Linked DNA regions of Homo sapiens. The protein of the gene in region 4 purifies or fractionates together with the protein of the main gene of each other region. This does not show direct contact. Each region holds a gene or a part of one and is shown on either strand. Other genes may lie near its edges. The genes, in order: MOV10, RBM34, ILKAP, STK38 and PRDM4.

The links.
Region 1: the proteins of STK38 (region 4) and MOV10 purify together in Homo sapiens (affinity purification with mass spectrometry; one large-scale study listed by BioGRID and IntAct). This does not show direct contact.
Region 2: the proteins of STK38 (region 4) and RBM34 purify together in Homo sapiens (affinity purification with mass spectrometry; one large-scale study listed by BioGRID and IntAct). This does not show direct contact.
Region 3: the proteins of STK38 (region 4) and ILKAP fractionate together in Homo sapiens (co-fractionation; one large-scale study listed by BioGRID). This does not show direct contact.
Region 5: the proteins of STK38 (region 4) and PRDM4 purify together in Homo sapiens (affinity purification with mass spectrometry; one large-scale study listed by BioGRID and IntAct). This does not show direct contact.

The regions. Positions count from the first base shown.
Region 1 is NC_000001.11:112,691,648-112,695,166, reverse strand, and holds part of MOV10 (helicase MOV-10), read right to left. Parts: intron 3,503-3,519; coding exon 3,368-3,502; intron 2,407-3,367; coding exon 2,238-2,406; intron 1,150-2,237; coding exon 995-1,149; intron 715-994; coding exon 538-714; intron 419-537; coding exon 271-418; intron 1-270.
Region 2 is NC_000001.11:235,137,234-235,140,752, forward strand, and holds part of RBM34 (RNA-binding protein 34), read right to left. Parts: intron 942-3,519; coding exon 858-941; intron 708-857; coding exon 644-707; intron 1-643.
Region 3 is NC_000002.12:238,190,182-238,193,700, forward strand, and holds part of ILKAP (integrin-linked kinase-associated serine/threonine phosphatase 2C), read right to left. Parts: intron 1-3,519. UniProt on the Homo sapiens protein: Protein phosphatase that may play a role in regulation of cell cycle progression via dephosphorylation of its substrates whose appropriate phosphorylation states might be crucial for cell proliferation.
Region 4 is NC_000006.12:36,498,980-36,502,498, forward strand, and holds part of STK38 (serine/threonine-protein kinase 38), read right to left. Parts: intron 1,012-3,519; coding exon 894-1,011; intron 1-893. UniProt on the Homo sapiens protein: Serine/threonine-protein kinase that acts as a negative regulator of MAP3K1/2 signaling. Converts MAP3K2 from its phosphorylated form to its non-phosphorylated form and inhibits autophosphorylation of MAP3K2.
Region 5 is NC_000012.12:107,751,126-107,754,644, forward strand, and holds part of PRDM4 (PR domain zinc finger protein 4), read right to left. Parts: intron 2,985-3,519; coding exon 2,799-2,984; intron 1,085-2,798; coding exon 290-1,084; intron 1-289. UniProt on the Homo sapiens protein: May function as a transcription factor involved in cell differentiation.

The DNA.
Region 1 (3,519 bases), on a different chromosome or scaffold from region 4:
TGCAGCCTCAAGTGCCCAGCTATTTTTCATATTTTTCATAGAGATAGGGTCTTGCAATATTGTCCAGGCTGGTCTTGAACTCCTTGGGCTAGTCTTCCCCAAGTGCTGAGATTACAGGCATGAGCCACTGCACCCGGCCCCTACCTCTCTTTCTGATGGCTGCTTAGAAGCAGGAGCATTTCGGGAGTGGGAAGGAACTAGAATCTGGGGACAACTGCTTGGTGCTGGGGGAATCAGAGTGCAGGCCCCAGGTTTGTGCTCAGACCCCACCTGCTTAATTGCCTCCACTAACGTGACAGTCTTGCCGGTGCCTGGAGGCCCAAAGATGATGTAGGGGGCTGGACGGGTGGTGCCCGTAACAATGTGCCTCATGGCCTGCAGCTGCTCTGGGTTTGACTCCAGACTCCGGTCGTACAGCCTGGCAGAGGGACCAGGAATGTGAACTTGAAGTCATCCAGTGACCCAGAGGCCTCCCTGACTCCACCCCCTGTGCCCACACTCCAAGTGGCTCCAGAAGCTCCCTGCCCACAGTCTCACTTGAGTTTCACATCTGAGGGCAGCAGCGGGACGTCCCGAGGTGCCACAGGAAAGAGCATGGGCCACAGCAGCCAGCGCCCTGTCAGCTCCAGGGCACGGTGCTGGACTCGCAGCGGCTGGCGGTTGAAGGTAAAGTTCACCTTGAAGGTCAGCCCATCCACAAAGCGGCTCAGGAGGCTTTGGGCAGAGAGAGGTGGTAAGAGTTTGTTGGGGCAGGGGAGGTGGGCAATAAAGGGCCAGAACTTTCTCCACCAACCAGTGTCCCAACCCCTCTTTCCAAGACCTCTATGCAAGTTCTCTAGAAGAGGAAGCTGCCGTAGCATCTCAGGGTACCCCTGAGGAAAAGTCTCCTGCTCTGCCCCGGGGTCTCATTTATCTCAGGGAGAAACACTCCTCCTCCCCTGGGGTCAGAAGTCTGTAGACCCTTCCAGCAGCTCAGGGTTCCCCCAACACCCACCTCATGGAAAAGCTCAGCTTGACACGGTCCAATTCCACCTTGTGCACAAAGCCCTTATATGTGATGGGGTCCTCCTGGTGTGTCTCCGAGGACAAAAGGGCAAACAGGTGGTCGCCCCGTAGCACTGAGGGGCGGCTCTCAGTCACTCCAGGAACCTATGGGGTGTGAACACAAGCAAGCTTCTGTCCCAGGGATGGACGCTGGAGGGCCCAGCCCCCAGGTTCCCCAGACCTTTAAGGGACAAGGACTGAGACTGGCCTTCTAACCTAAGACTCAGGGAGTTATGCTATCCCTGCACCCCTCTTTCCTTTCATACCAGCAGGAGTCAGGGGAAGAGGAAGAAGACAAATCCTCCGAAGCTGCCCAGAGATGCCGAGCCCAGGAACCCGGAGCCTCCAGTGCAGCTGCCCTCTTGGCCAGCTCAGTTCCTGCTCTGCCTATAAAAATCCTGTTCATCAGTTAATCGGGTTGCTAAAAAAATAATTAAAAAAAAAAAAAAAAAAAAACGGACCAGGCATGGTGGCTCACGCCTGTAATCCCAGCACTTTGGGAGACTGAGGCAGGCGGATCACTTGAGTCCAGGTGTTGCGAGACCAGCCTGGCCAATGTGGCAAAACCCCATCTCTACAAAAAATACAAAAATTAGCCAGGCGTAGTGGGGCATGTCTGTGGTCCCAGCTACTTGGGAGGATCACTTGAGCCCGGGCGGCGGGGATTAAAGCGAGCCAAGATCATGCCATTGCACTCCAGCCTGAGCACCAGGGTGAGACCCTGTCTCAAAACAAAAACAACAACAACAAAAAACTTGTTCAAAACTCACTTCCTGCAGTAATCTTTCCTTGAACAAACTCACCCTCTAATTCCCACCTGCAATTGTGTGTAGAAATCCATTCTCGTGTGTAATTTTGGGCTTATATGCACACATTGAAAATCCAAGAGCCAGAAAGAGCTCTAAGAATTATCCAGTCCAGCTCTGTGCTTTTCAGATAAGGGAACTAAGGCTTAGAGAAAGCCAGGGACTTACCCAAGGTGGTAGCAAAGCCTGGACTAGAACCCAGATCTTCCCCATTTCCCTGCTCCAACACATCTTTGGGCACAGGATGCCCACCCTGCTTCTTGCGGAGCCCTGGGAACCACTTCAACTTTCCTCTTGTTCTGCCCTGCTGTCAGGAATAGTTCTGCCCACAGCCTCTAGCTTGGCTGGCTTGAGCCCACCCTCCTCACACTCAATCTGAGCCCTGACCTCCAGCGTGAGCAGCCTGGGGTTCTGGTCCACAGGGTCCCAGGTCATGGGCACCGACTCCAGGTCATAGTGCCGGATATCATGCTCCATCTGCAGTTCCTCCAGGTGCAGCAGCAGCCGCAGCTTCACCTCATAGTTCCTCCACTTCAGGGCTGTCTCCAGCTGGGCCCTGGAAATGATGGTTGGGAGGGGTGAGTGGGGGCAGGAACAGGATGGGCCAGACAACCCCTATGCCCAGGAGTATCCACCTTCTCCCACCTGAAGCTCTGGAACTAGCGTCAAAAAGCAGAGAAGACTAGAGGGATACAGAAGTGGATGAGAGTCAGAGGCCCTGAAGAAGGAAGCCTTGGCTCCTGCTTCCTTGGATGCCCCTGCCCCCACCTCACCCGACTTGCATTTGCATGGTGGCTCTTATGGCCAGAACATTCTCCTCCAATCCTCTCATGACTCCCACCCTCACCTCATTCAAATGTCCTTCTCTGTTCAAACATCACTACCTCAAACAGGCCAGGACTAACTGGCCTTCTGCAAAGCAGCACCAACCCATTCCCTAACCCTGCTTTAGTTTCAGTATAGTTCTGTTCATCTTTTTTAGAGACAAGATCTTGCTCTGTCACCCATGCTGGAGTGCAGTGGCATGATCTGGGCTCACTCACTGTGTCCTCAACCTCCTGGGCTCAAGAAATTCTCCCACCTCTGCCTCACAAGTAGCTGGGACTACAGACATGTGCCACCACACTTGGCTAATTAAAATTTTTTTTTGTAGAGACAGAATCTCACTATGTTGCCCCAGGCTGGTCTTGAACTCTTGGGCTTAAATGATCCACCTGCCTCGGCCTCCCAAAGTGCTGAGATTACAGGCATGAGCCACTTACACCTGACCTGTTTAGTTCTTCACAGCACTCATCACTCCATGAAATTGTAACAAAAATGCTCATTGTCCCCCATTAAAATGAGCCAGGCCTTCATTTGACTGGTTCACCTTGAATGGTGCTTGGTGTATGGTGCGTGCTCAGTAAGGGAATGAATGAATACAGCCTGGGAGGCTGAGGACGGAGGTGCCAGGGCAATGCAAAGAAGCCAGTAGGTAAAAGACGGGAGAGTGCGGGGTGCAGAGGGATGGTACTTACTTGATCTCTGCGATCTCCTTAGGGGCAGTGAAGATACTTGTTCCCTGAAGAAGCATGGGGAGCAGCTGCCTGAGGCGGGGAGGTGGGTAGTATGTCCCCAGCGCCATACTTAACTCCAGGTCATAGCCCTTAGCGCTGCAGAATCGAGGGAA
Region 2 (3,519 bases), on a different chromosome or scaffold from region 4:
AGAACTGCATCTCTGACAGAGTGTGTACTAAAAACTGTCTAATGAATAATTGAACTTTCTAGACCTCGGTCTATAATGTGTTAGACCAGATGATGTCTAATGTACCTTCTGACCTAATTATGCTTATTTGAAGAGGACTATGTTTTTGTTTCTTTTTAAGAAACAGGGTCGCCCTCTGTTGCCCAGGCTAGAATGCAGTGGCACGACTACAGCTCACTGCAGCCTCAAACTCCTGGGCTCAGGTGGTGCTCCCACCTCAGCCTTCTGAGTAGCTGGGACTGTCGGCATGCATCACACACTTGACTAATTTTTTTTTTTTTTTTTGTAAAGGCAGGGTCTTGCTACATTGCTCAGGCTGCTCTTAACTCCTGGGCTCAAGTGATCCTCCCGCCTTGGCCTCCCAAAATGTTAGGATTACAGGCATGAGCCATTGTGCCCAGCCAGGACTACGTTTTTGAAGGGAATGTTGACCTCGGTCCTTGTGCCTCTCTTGCCATCAACTCTGTAACCACAGAGGACATAGGCTGTTTCCTTCTGCGCTTCCCTCACATTGCTGATTCCAGTCCCCTTCCAGGAAAAGCCTGGAAGGAAACATTTCTCTCTACAAAGCTCTCGTTCTTTAAACAAATCAAGTACTACTTACAGATGAGGTCTCAGATGCGAGATCAACTCTAATACGAAATCCATCTGCAATCTGGGCCCCATTTCTGTATTATAAATACAAAGGGAAAATGGTTGTTAAAAATGAGCACTCGATTACTAAAACATCTATGCTAAAGTGAAACCAAAGAATAAAAAAAGTACTCATACATACTTATAGGACAATTATTCTGTTCAAACCTAAGGGATAAAATTACCTTTTCAATGCTTGCGTGGCAGCACTCTCCTCCTTAAACACAACATAGGCATTAATATTTTTCTGATCAGGATGAATTTTACGTCTACACCAAAAAAAAAAAAAGAAAGAAAGAAAAGAGAGACAAGGTAAATTTCTTAGCCTCAAAGTCACTAGAAAAAAATCTAGCTGTTTTCAACTCTTAACACACATGACAAGAATTCCTGGGTGGACATTTCATCTCTTTGAATAAATATTTAGTAATAACTCAAAAAATAACACACAACTTATAAAGATATTAGTGGAGACACAACCCATACTTTCTTAGGAATCATAACCATGAGAAAACAGATGAACCATGTATATGAATCCCTGAGAACCATACAAGAACTAAAAACTGACATCTTAGCTGCAGTCCGTATCTAACACACATATAAACAGTTGTGAAAGACGTGAGTTTTCCTCTTTACTGTGAAACACCCATATAGAAGAGTGCACAAACTACGTATAGCTGAGTGAATTAACAACAGCTCAACGTGCCTTGTAGCCCACTCAGAAGCCTCTCTGTGGCCCTTTCCCGTTGCAGCCCCTCCTTCCCTCCAAAGGCAACCACCATTCCCATTTTTATAGGAACTACTTCCCTGCACATCTTTGTGGTTTTATCAACCAAGTGTCTATTCTTAGACATCATACTTTGGTCTTGTCTATACTTTTGACCTGATATGTCTTTTGAATCTTGTTTAATTTACAGAGTTTTCTCTGTATCTCTTTATCTCTCACTATTTGGCCTGCAGAATTCCCCACAGCCTGGATTTTGTGACTGCAAGCTCATCAAGTAGTTTAACACAAACCTTTGTCCTCTATATTTCTTGTAAACTGGCAGCTGCATCAAAAGGATGGATCAGACTCAGACATGACCCCTTTGTCGCGACTGCTGGTGGGTGTTGTGTTCTTTCCAGGGAGTCATGTTATGACTGGTTTTTACCCTTTTGTCAATGACTGCAGCTGCTGCTACTAAATGCCTAAACTCATTAAGTCACTAGGTTTGCAAAATGGTGATATAATTTGGATGTGAGGAGTTAGCAAAAAGGACCTAGTAATGAACACAGATCTTTCCCTGAAGACATCAACCTACTGTTTTGAAGTAAGAAAAATGCTACTACACAAATGAGTATCATCAAGAAGGGAACTGGAAAATAGTGCCTGACATGACTGATGGCATTCTGTAATAATACACTATACTAATGCTTTTGTATTGATTAAACCAGCTGTGATTTACTGAATGCCTAATATATACCAGACACTCAGCTAGACATTTTATGTATTTCATTTAATCTCACATCTCCAACACGGTGTTTTTTTTCTGATTTTATGAATAAGGAAGCTGAGACTGGAAGAGGTACGTGACTGCGATGAAATGGCAACAAGTGGCTGGCCTAGGACTGAAACCAAGTCTAGCTGACTCTAGAGCCCTGCTCTTCACACAACACACAGCTGCCGACAACATCCAAATCCAACACATCCTAGTGCACCCCCAGGAACAAATGCTGGAGTTCCGCTTCCACCTAGAATGTAAAAAGCCAGAAAGTGCATCACTCCTGCTCTTACCAGTTAAGAAGAAACCAGATAACCCACAGCATCATAACTTTTGTTGCAGCCATCACAGAGCTGAAGTCTTGGGGAAAGCCAGCAGCTAGAAGCTAAGGACAGGCCTGCTTCCTCCAATGAGAGACAGAGGAAGCACTGGCTCTTCTGGCTCTACGATGGCCGAGCACAGGGGCAAAATGCTGGGCACCAGACAAGCAGGAAAGATTCCAGCCATGATCTCACTAAAACACTAGAGCTCAGCGTGGGCTGGGCCTGAAACAGAAGTCCTGGAAGCTGCCGAGGCAGGAGTGTGCGCCCATCCTCAGGATCTGCCCCACTGACCTCCACTCCCTGGGAAAGGCTGAGATCGCAGCTATGGGTGCTGCAGGCCTGGAGGACGGAATGGCCAAAGTGTGGGAAAGGCACAAAGCCCCACCTGGATTCTTCTTGAGAGGTGACAGCGTGCTGGCAGTCCTCAGAGCCCTCGCTTGCTCTCCGCACCTCCTCTGCCTGGGCTCCCACTTTGACGGCACTTGAGGAGCCCTTCAGCCCACCGCTGCGCTGTGGGAGCCCGTTTCTGGGCTGGCCAAGGCCGGAGCCGGCTCCCTCAGCTTGCAGGGAGGTGTGGAGGGAGAGGCGCGAGTGGGAACCAGGGCTGCGCGGCGCTTGCGGGCCAGCTGGAGTTCCAGGTGGGCGTGGGCTTGGCGGGCCCCGCACTCGGAGCAGCCGGCCGGCCCTGCAGGCCCTGCCGGCCCCGGGCAGTGAGGGGCTTAGCACCCGGGCCAGTGGCTGCGGAGGATGTACTGGGTCCCCCAGCAGTGCCAACCCACTGGCGCTACGCTCGATTTCTCACCGGGCCTTAGCTGCCTTCCCGCAGGGCAGGGTTCGGGACCTGCAGCCCGCTATGCCTGAGCCTCCCACCCCCTCCATGGGCTCCTGTGCGGCCCGAGCCTCCCCGAGGAGCGCCACCCCCTGCTCCACGACGCCCAGTCCCATCGACCACCAAAGGGCTGGGGAGTGCAGGCGCACGGCATGGGATTGGCAGGCAGCTCCACCTGCAGCCCCGGTGCAGGATCCACTGGGTGAAGCCAGCTGGG
Region 3 (3,519 bases), on a different chromosome or scaffold from region 4:
CCCTGAGTCAAACTGACCCTGCTGAAGGGGTTTGTAAAAGACTTTTCCCAGTGGTAAAAATACATGGTTTTTTTTGGCCTGTAGCATATACATGTTTTTATATCCACAGGCTCTTAGTGTTAAACAAACACTTACAAAATCTGTAAGCAAACTAACATATCCTAATCACGTTCCAAAAAGTAACAAGTACTCGAAAAGGCTCAAAATGAGGTAAATGGCAGCCTTTAAGAACTGTAATACATCCTTTCAAAGGCAAAATAAGGCTGCCACAGCTGTTCCCACTAGCAAAAGGATGAATCTGTACTCAAAGCTAAGGGAATCTGCAGTGTATGTGTTTGAAATGAGAAAAGTCAAGTTTCAAAGAGGTGTGCAACTTAATCTTTCAGTCTCAGCTGTCTTCACCCGTGCGTAACATGGTAAGAATACTGTCATCTCAGAGGGATGTTTGAAAATGGGTCAGGACAAGTAGGAAGAGCATTTGTCACAGTGCCTAACACATCAATCTCCAATAAGGGCAGCTGCTGTCCTAATAAATGACTTGAAATGTTCTCTGCATTTAGGTATAAAAGTATGCAACAGCCAGATGCAGTGGCACATGCCTGCAGTCACAGCTACTTCTGGAGACTGAGGCAGAAGGATCACTTCAGCCCAGGCATTTGAGACCTGCCTGGGCAAAGTAGTAAGACGTTTCTCTTTAAAAAAAAAAAAAAAAAAAAAAAAAAAAGGATGCAAGTACTTATTTACTTACTCAACCTACTCTTTGCCAGACATTTCTTCTTCTTTTTGTTTTTGACACAGGGTCTCATTCTGTCACACAGACTAGAATGCAGTGGCATGATCACAGTTTACTGCAGCCTCCAACTCCTGTGTTCAAGTGATCCTTCCATCTCAGCCTCCTGAGCAGCTGGGACTGAAAGCAGGAACCACTACACCCGGCTAATTTTTTAATTTTTTTGGTAAACACAAGGTGTCTTTTTTTTTTTTTTGAGACGGAGTCTACTCTGTCGCCCAGGCTCGAGTGCAGTGACGCAACGTCAGCTCACTACAACCTCCACCTCCAGGGTTCAAGCAATTCTCCTGTCTCAGCCTACAGGAGTGCACCATCACACCCAGCTAATTTTTGTATTTTTGTATTTTTAGTAGAGACGGAGTTTCACCATGTTGGGTAGGTTGGTCTTGAACCGCCTGTGTCAGACATTTCTTAGTGCTGAGGAAAAAGTAATGAAAATGTTCCTGCCCTCAAGAAGCGTAAATTAGTTGCACAAGGCCCTATTTCTGCAACAGTATAACATAATACACATATGCACCCTGCATAAGGCAACACAGATGTTTCCAACAGTATCTCTCCCAAAGGTCCCCATTAGTGTCCTGTGGCTTACTGTATGGGTTCCAGTTTTCCCCATATGGATGTGAAACTTTCTTCCTTTAAAATTCCAAAACAGATGGCCAGGTGTGGTGGTTCACACCTGTCATCCCAGCACTTTGGGAGGCTGAGATGGGCAGATCATCTAAGGTCAGAAGGTCAAGACAAGCCTGACCAACATGGCGAAACCCGGTCTCTAATTAAAATACAAAAAATTAGCCGGGCATGGTAGCGCCTGTAATCCCAGCTACTCGGGAGGCTGAGGCACGAGACTCACTGGAACCCAGGAGGCGGAGGCTGCAGTGAGCTGAGATCTCGCCACTGCGCTCCAGCCTAGGCAACAGAGCAAGGCTCCATCTCAAAAAAAAAAAAAAGAAAAAGAAAAAGGCCAGGCGCAGCGGCTCATGCCTGTAATCCCAGCACTTTGGGAGGCAGAGGCAGGCGGATCATGAGGTCAAGAGATTGAGACCATCCTGGCCAACATGGTGAAACCCCGTCTCTACTGAAAATACAAAAAATTAGCTGGGTGTGGTGGCAGGTGCCTATAGTCCCAGCTACTCGGGAGGCTTAGACAGGAACTTGAACCCGGGAAGTAGAGGTTGCAGTGAGCTGAGATCGCAACACTGCACTCCAGCCTGCCAACAGAGTGAGACTGTCTTAAAAAAAAAAAAAGAAAAAGAAAAAGAAAAAAAGAAAAATAATAAAATTTCAAAATAAAGACACCTTACAGGTTTGTTATTGACTTCTAAGCAAATTACACTGTAGTCTGAGAATGTAGTCTGTACAAGAAACAGATCATTGAGGCTTATTTTATGGCTTAGTACATAATCAACTTTTGTAAATGGTTCCTGCCCGCTTAAGAATGTGTTATCGGGCCGGGCAAGGTCGCTCACACCTGTCATCCCAGCACTTTGGGAGGCCGAGGCAGGCGGATCACGAAGTCAGGAGATGGAAACCATCCTGGCTAACATGGTGAAACCCCATCTCTACTAAAAATACAAAAAAATTAGGTGGGCGTGGTGGCGGGAGCCTGTAGTCCCAGCTACTTGGGAGGCTGAGGCAGCAGAATGGCATGAACCTGGGAGGCAGAGCTTGCACTGAGCTGAGATCGCGCCACTGCACTCCAGCCTGGGCAACAGAGAGAGAGACAGTCTCAAAAAAGGAAAAAAAAAAAAAGAATGTGTTATCGGCTGGGTGCAGTGGCTCACGCCTGTAATCTCAGCACTTTGGGAGGCTGAGGCGGACAGATCACAAGGTCAGGAGTTCGAGACCAGCCTGGCCAATATGGGAAAACCCTGTCTCTACTAAAAATACAAAAATTAGCCAGGCATGGTGGCACACGCCTGTAGTCCCAACTACTCAGGAGGCTGAGGCAGGAGAATCGCTTAAACCCGGGAGGTGGAGGTAGCAGTGAGCCAAGATTGTGCCACTGCACTCCAGCCTGGGTGAGAGTGTGAGACTCCGTCTCAAGAAAAAAAAAATGTGTTAACTTCTCTAGAAATCTAAAACACTAGACCCAAGATTATATATCCAAAAAATTAAGCTTGTTAATAGTGTTATGTAAATCTTCTAAATTTTTTACTACTTTGCCTTTTGTCCTGTAGATAAATAAGAGACAGCTATGCTGTATCTTCATTTCTTCTATTAAATCCCTTAACAGCCTTCTTTGAACATATTAACTTTCCTTTTTTTTGGAGACAGAGTCTTTCTCTGTCACCCAGGCTGGAGTGCAATGGCGTGATCTCAGCTCACTGCAACCTCTGCCTCCTGGGTTCAAGCGACTCTCCTGCCTCTGCCTCCTGAGTAGCTGGGACGACAGGCACATGCCACCATGCCTGGCTAATTTTTGTATTTTTAGTAGAGACAGGGTTTCGCCATGTTGGCCAGGCTGGTCTTGAACTCCTGACCTCAAGTGATCTACCCGCCTTGGCTTCCCAAAGTGCTGGGATTATAGGCGTGAGCCACCACGCCCAGCCAGAACATATTAACTTTCATTACAACTAAGGGTACTATCTTTATTGGGAAGGTTTCAGGCCACACTGTGAGTGTGAGGATGCTGCAATTTTTTGGTATGGGTCTACAGCCCTGAAGATTGAGAATTCTTATATAAGATGACTGGAGTACTTTTCCTAAAATATAGAAAATATACCTGCATA
Region 4 (3,519 bases):
ACCTAAACCTATTTTTCATTTTCCCCCAAACTCCCAGACCCAAAGTGAAATCATGCCTCTGGTACCACTAGGAAGTCAGCTAATAGGTAGAGCTGGGAAAAGAAAGGAGGACATAAATAGAGTTGCAGGTGTGGGAATCACCATGCCCAAAGAAGAAATGAAAGGATGAAACAATATCATTCCAGAAATACCCTTATATGGGTAAAGTACCAAATAACTTGAATAAGAAAAAAGCATAGATTTTAAAAATGACCACCATGCCTCTTTTTGAGAACTACAGGCAAGAAGACAAACACGCACACACCCTATCACCCCATCTTCCCTCCAGACGGTGTACGCCCACCTCCACAGGCATCGTTCCCATGTTCCTGAAGCCAAAGCAGCCAGATAGACTCACCCGGAACCACCAAGGATATACTTAATCTAGTGCTCACTGGCATATGACCACCCCCACAGATGCGTCCCATAAATACAGAGACACACCAATACAATAAGAGGGAGAGAGGCCAGAGGGTCCCATGATTTGAAGGCTTTGACAGAGGAAGGGGGCGGCAAATTAGGAAAGTGAGGCAATGCCCAGTTGAAGTGCTCTGCATACAACGGATATTTAATAAATGCTAGTGACTAAAAGAGCTTCTAGATGGAGAAGATGAAGGTATAAGAGAAAGAAAAACATAAAAAATGATCAGCAAAGCAATTGCAGGATGCCAGTAAGCCCAAGAATGGAGTGGGATACATCTTACTGAAAGAGGTGTCATCTGTCTAAAACAATTCACTTTGAAAGACAAGTAGGGAAATCACTTAGATCACTGCCAATTGAAACAGAGGCTGGTATCAATGTAAAAGTCTGTCATGGATGCACAGAAAAAGTCCTCTGAAACCATGCAACTTACCGATGAGCATCTCATACATGATCACCCCAAGCGACCACCAATCACAGAGCTTGTTGTACCCGGTCTGCATGAACACCTCAGGAGCAATGTAGTCAGGAGTGCCTACTGTGGAGAAGGCCTGAAACATGGACCACACATCAGCGAGGCCCAGCCAGGCAGGAGGTGCCCAGAGTTCTGTTCTAGAAACCAAAGGCTATGAGTAACATCAGAAGCTACCCCCAAGCTAAATAAGCAGGACTGCCCAGTAGCTTAATGGCAAGCTCGATTTCCCAAAGCACTTTCCAAAATGAACAATAAAGCTTTGTTCATGAGGCAGGAGACCCTTAACTATGAGTCACTAGGGCGAAGGCATCTGTGTCATAATAACTGGTATTACAATTTACTGAGCACCCATTAAGTACTAGGCTCTGTACTTAATATATATATTACATGAGTTTTATATATATATATAACTTCATATACATGAGTCCATTTAATCCTGACAAAACTTTTCCAAGGAGGACCTTATTAGCTTAACTTTGCAGATACAATTTGATGCTCAAAATGGCTTTGCCTGAGACCGCAGAACTAGTTAGGTGGTAGAGCCCAGTTTAAAAATTAAATATCTGGCCGGGAGTGGTGGTTCACGCCTGTAATCCCAGCACTTTGAGAGGCTGAGGTGGGCGGATCACGAGGTCAAGAGATGGAGACCATCCTGGCCAACATGGTGAAAACCCGTCTCTACTAAAAATACAAAAATTAGCTGGGCGTGGTGGTGTGCACCTGTAGTCCTAGCTTCTCGGGAGGCTGAGGCAGGAGAATCGCTTGAACCCGGGAGGCGGAGGTTGCAGTGAGCCGAGATCGTGCCACTGCACTCCAGCCTGGCGACAGAGTGAGACTCTGTCTCAAAAAAAAAAAAAAAAAAAAATAGGAATTATAGTATCTTACTCCAAACCATCCCTCTTTCTATGATACACATTCTTTGATTTGACACAATCATAAAGGGAAGCTATATGATCAAAAGCTAAAGTTATATCCTATAACTTAAACATTTATAAATACCTATTTACCAAACTTAATTGTTTTTGTATATAGTTCTTGGAGGAATGTTTTCTTTTTCTAAGAAATGGGGGTCTCCCTTTGTGGGCCCAGGCTGGAGTGCAGTGGCACGATGATGGCTCACCTCAAACTCCTAGGCTCAAGAGATCCTCCCACCTCAGCCACCATAGTAGCTAGGACCACAGGTGCATGCCACCACACCTGGCTAATTTTTTAATTTTTTTGTAGAGATGGGGTTTTGCCATCTTGCCCAGACTGGTCTTTAACTCCTGGCTCAAGTGATCCTCCCACCTCAGCCTCCCAAAGTGCTGGGATTACAGGTGTGAGCCACCGCACCTGACCAAGAGAAACATTTTCTGCATTCCAGTATTCTACTCTAACATACCAGGACTGCAAAATAAGAGGAGAAAGTACAATCAAAGCCTCCTAATGTACTTAACATTTGAGGGCTTCCATGTGTAAGGCTCTGATCTAGGTGCTTTAAATATTATATAATTTTTTAAATTACAGTTGTATTGTTTTTAAAACATGTATTATGAAATATTACAAACATACAGAAAAAAGGAACAGACAATACAATACAGACCCATTACCCACATTAAAAAGATTAATAATTTGCCATATTTGTCTCAGATCATTTGTCTTTTTTTTTTTTTTTGAGATGAACCACACCTGGCTAATTTTTTGTATTTTTAGTAGAGACAGGGTTTCACCACATTGGCCAGGCTGGTCACAAACTCCTGACCTCAAGTGATCCACCCACCTCAGCCTCCCAAAGTACTGGGATTACAGGAGTGAGCCACCGCAACCGGCCTTGTTTGTCTTAACATTCGTTTTGAGATTTATTCATGTAGCTCTAGTTCACTCATTTCTCTGCCGTATGCTATACTGTTATATAAATTAGTCACAATAGTTTTTATCCGTTCTTCTGTAATGGACAGTTACAGTGCTTCCAGTATTTCACTATGACAAATAACACCTGAATAAACATTCTTTTAATACCTTCTTGGGCACTGTGCAAGCATTCCTCTAGAGTATTAACTAGAATATTGCTGAGCCTTGGGTTATAAGCATTTAAACTTGAGGTATCTTCCATGTCCTCCAAAGTAGTTAGTCCCTATTTAAACCAACCCCGGTGGGGATTAGCTTCTGGTACTCCATATCTCATCAAGACTTGGCTTTGTCAGATTTTTTTTTATTTTTACCAATCTGATGAATATGAAATGGGATCTCTTTTTTTTTCTTTTTAAGAGATGGGGTCTTGCTCTGTCACCCGGGCTGGAGTGCAGTGGTATGATCATAGCTCACTGCAGCCTTGAAATCCTGGCCTCAAGGGATTCTCCTGCCTCAGCCTCCTGAGTAGCTGGGACTGTAGGGATGTGCCAGCATGGCTGGGATCTTGTTTTAATTTGCATTTACTTTATTTCAAGTAGGGTTGAGCACATATTCATATTTTAATTAGCCATCCAGGTTTTTATTATGAATTCCTATTCAGATCCTTTGTCCATTAGTATTTTTTAAGTTGTGTTGTCCTTTTTCTTATTGATTCATAGGAATTCTTTATGAATTCAGGACATTAATCTGTTTA
Region 5 (3,519 bases), on a different chromosome or scaffold from region 4:
CACACACTACCGCATGTGCTAAGCTTATCTGCAAAATACAAAAATGACTACTTCACATTTCATTTCTTCAGGAGGATGCTCTAAGAACCAACTAAATGTATGTATATCATTTGGCTTACTTGAAGAAAAGGCACCACATTAATATAAAGGACAATACCAAGGCAAAGAAAAGTTCCAAGGTCTAGTTGCTTTCTATACTCCCTTAATGCCAAACTTTACGACTTAACTTGTTAGGGATGGTGGCCCTTTTTACAAATATTTCCAAAAAAGAAAGGCTAAACACACTCACAAATTGTAAACAAGGTTGCCATGTTCTCCTTGTTTGAATTGGAGTCTTCCATTTGCAGTGAAGGTGATACAAAAGAAAGACTGTCTGAAGATACATCTACATGACCTGTCCCCATAGCAACCTCCTGGGTGATGGAGGAGACAGCCACAGGTTCTAGGCTGAGGCCAACTTCATGGAGGGAAACAGATTCTAGGGAGGCAAGGTTGTGTGAGGTAGAGAGTGCCACGCTTACAGAGTTGGTGCTCATGGCCACAGTGTGAATGGAGTCACTGAGGGCACTGTCAGACATGCCATTGACCCGACTTGCAATGTGGTCTGTCTCCATGACCACAGGGAGCTCCAGGCCATTCCCATGCATGGGTATCACACCACCATGTCCTACAGCGTCTGCTGCAAGGTTGTTGCTCACAGAATCCACAGACAGAGGTTCATGACTTCTGGAGCCATTTGGGATTTGGGAATGCTCGCCTGCAACACCGTCCATCGTAAGCTCCTCTGCCATTCCATCTGTCGAAATTGGGCTGGTAACCCTAGAAACGTTCTCCATAGTGATTGCTGTGTCCAAGGCCACCTCATGGCCATCACTGGGATGAAGACTTTGGGCACCATGTGTGTTCACAGAGCGAGAGTCTATTGAAACAATGCCTGGTTCTAATCCAACATTTCCATTGGACTGATAGGGATCTAGTGCTGAAGGGTTATTGGTGATAGATAATGCTGTATTACCATCAACATTTATAGAGTTAGGGTGGATGTACTGTGGAGGTGGTCTGTCAGCTAAATAAGATAAAATGCCTGAGAAAAGGAAAAGATGAGATATCAGAGACTTTTAGTACATTATTAAAGAATTCCAAGCACTAGACGCTATTTCCTTACAAACATAACTAAGTTCAAATAATCTCCTGCTTCTTTAATTTAATCGATACACACTATTTTATAAATAGCAACATACATATACCGTAATTGAGTTTTTCCTGTAAAACTCGAAAATCCTAAAAAAGTTAACTATGTTCCTTTGAAGCTAACTGGGAATCACTAACGAAAACACTGCTTTTAATATACATATGGTTGCAATTCCTGAGTCCTAAGGTGTAAAATTTGCTCTCCTAATTATTAAAAGGTAAAATGATTTAAAAACAGATCTTCCATGTGAAAAATAAAACTTAATTAAATATAATTTAATATAATTAAACTATCATAACACAAACTATTTAATACAAGTCACAATTGTACCTGTTTTATTAAAACAAAAAAAAATTAACACTTGTGCTTGGGAGGATATGGTGAAATGATACTTACTAAACTGCCAGAGGGAATGTAAACTGCTAAAACTTCTTTGTGAAGCATATATATTAGGAGCCTCAAAAATGTTAATACCCTCTTGCACAAGAAATTCCACTTAAGGTACTCTTCTCTAAATCCATTTTGTAAATATTATACATAAAGACGTTCATAAGAGCATTAGTTACAATGGTAATAAAAACTGGAAAAACCAAACTGTCCAACAATAAAGATAATAAACCATCAAATACCCATTCAGTAGAAAGTAATGCATCATTAAAAAGGATAATTATGAAAACCACGTAGCAGCAAAGGAAAATACCCATGTAACAGCAGAGAAAAAGATAAAGTGAAAAAAGTAAAGACAGACAATCGTATAGAAAGTATGGTCTTGGGCAGGGCACAGTGGCTCATGCCTGTAATCCCGGCACTTTGGGATGCTGACGTGGGCGGATGGCTTCAGCGCAGGAGTTCGAGACCAGCCTCGGCAACATGCCAAAACCCCATCTCTTTTTTTAAAAAAGTTATTTATAAAAAAGAAATGAAATATGGTATGGTCTCAAGGCAGGCATGTGCCTGTATTCCAAGCTACTCAAGAGTCTGAGGTGAGAGAATCACTGGAGTCCAGGAGTTCCAGTCCAGCCTGGGCAAAATAGTTGAGACTCCGTCTCCATTAAAAGAAAAAAAAAAAAAAGAAAAGAAAAAAGAGAGCAAGAGAAGAAACCGTGGTCTTAATTATGAAAATTGGTAAAAACCTATACACCAAAACAAATGGCAGGAAGGAAGTACACCAAAAAGATGGATGATGGGACTGAGTGGTTCCTTCCCTTATTTGCTAAATTTTCCGCAATAAGCATATAATACTCCTATAACAGAATAAAAATTCAATGAACTTAAAAAACATGACACTATAACAAGACACTATAGTGCTTGACTGAAATTATAGCTGTAGAATTATAAACACCAAATGAAAGAGATACTGGAGGAGAAAGAAGAAAAATTATGTGCAATTAAGAAATTCAGCTTAGTCAAACTGTATTACTAATGTGTTATGTGCCACATTCTAAGAGGAAAAGTACATAAATATAAACAAAGATACTTTTCCTGCCTAGAGATTAATATCTAATAGTGACAAACAGAAAAAAGTGTTATTCATATCTTCAGGATAAAAGTTTAAAAGCTGGCGCCGTTCTTTTTCTCTAACATCTCAAGTAACTGTAACACTTACCAGGTAGAATGGTTCTGAAATAACTGCTCTCCAGGTGAGGGTAAGGTGGTGGAGGTAGGGTGTAGTTTCTTTCAGGTAACCCACACATCACCCCTCGATCCCCAATACCCATTGGTAGCATTAAAGACAGAGCAGAAGGCAGAGAGCTCAGGGAGGGACCCAGGTTTGGAATTGCCACTGGGAGGCCTACAAAACAAAATTTTTTTTCTCAGTTAAAAGAAAATAGGTAATTAAAAATTCTCACTACAACCACTGGCTAAACTCTTAGAAAGGTTTTTACACATGGGCAAAAATCTCACCTACTAGCCCTTTTCATCCTTAGATAATGTGCAAATATCCACAAATAAGCCTAAAGAAAGTAGTCTTAGTCCCAAAGATAGTTTTTAAGTTAGTTCTAAACCGGCAAGTTGATACTCCAATTGTCTGTATTGCGCTTAAATACAAAAATATTTAATTAATTAATTTATCGATTGATTTGAGACGGAGTCTTGCTTTGTTGCCCAGGCTGGAGTGCAGTGGTGTGATCTCAGCTCACTGCAATCTCGGCCTCCTGGGTTCAAGCAATTCTCCTACCTCAGCCTCCTGAGTAGCTGGGATTACAGGCACACACCACCACACCCAGCTAATTTTTGTATTTTTGCTAGAGACAGGGTTTCACCATGTTGGCCAGGCTGGTCTCGAACTCCTGGCCTCAAGTGATCTGCCCACCTCAGCCTCCCAA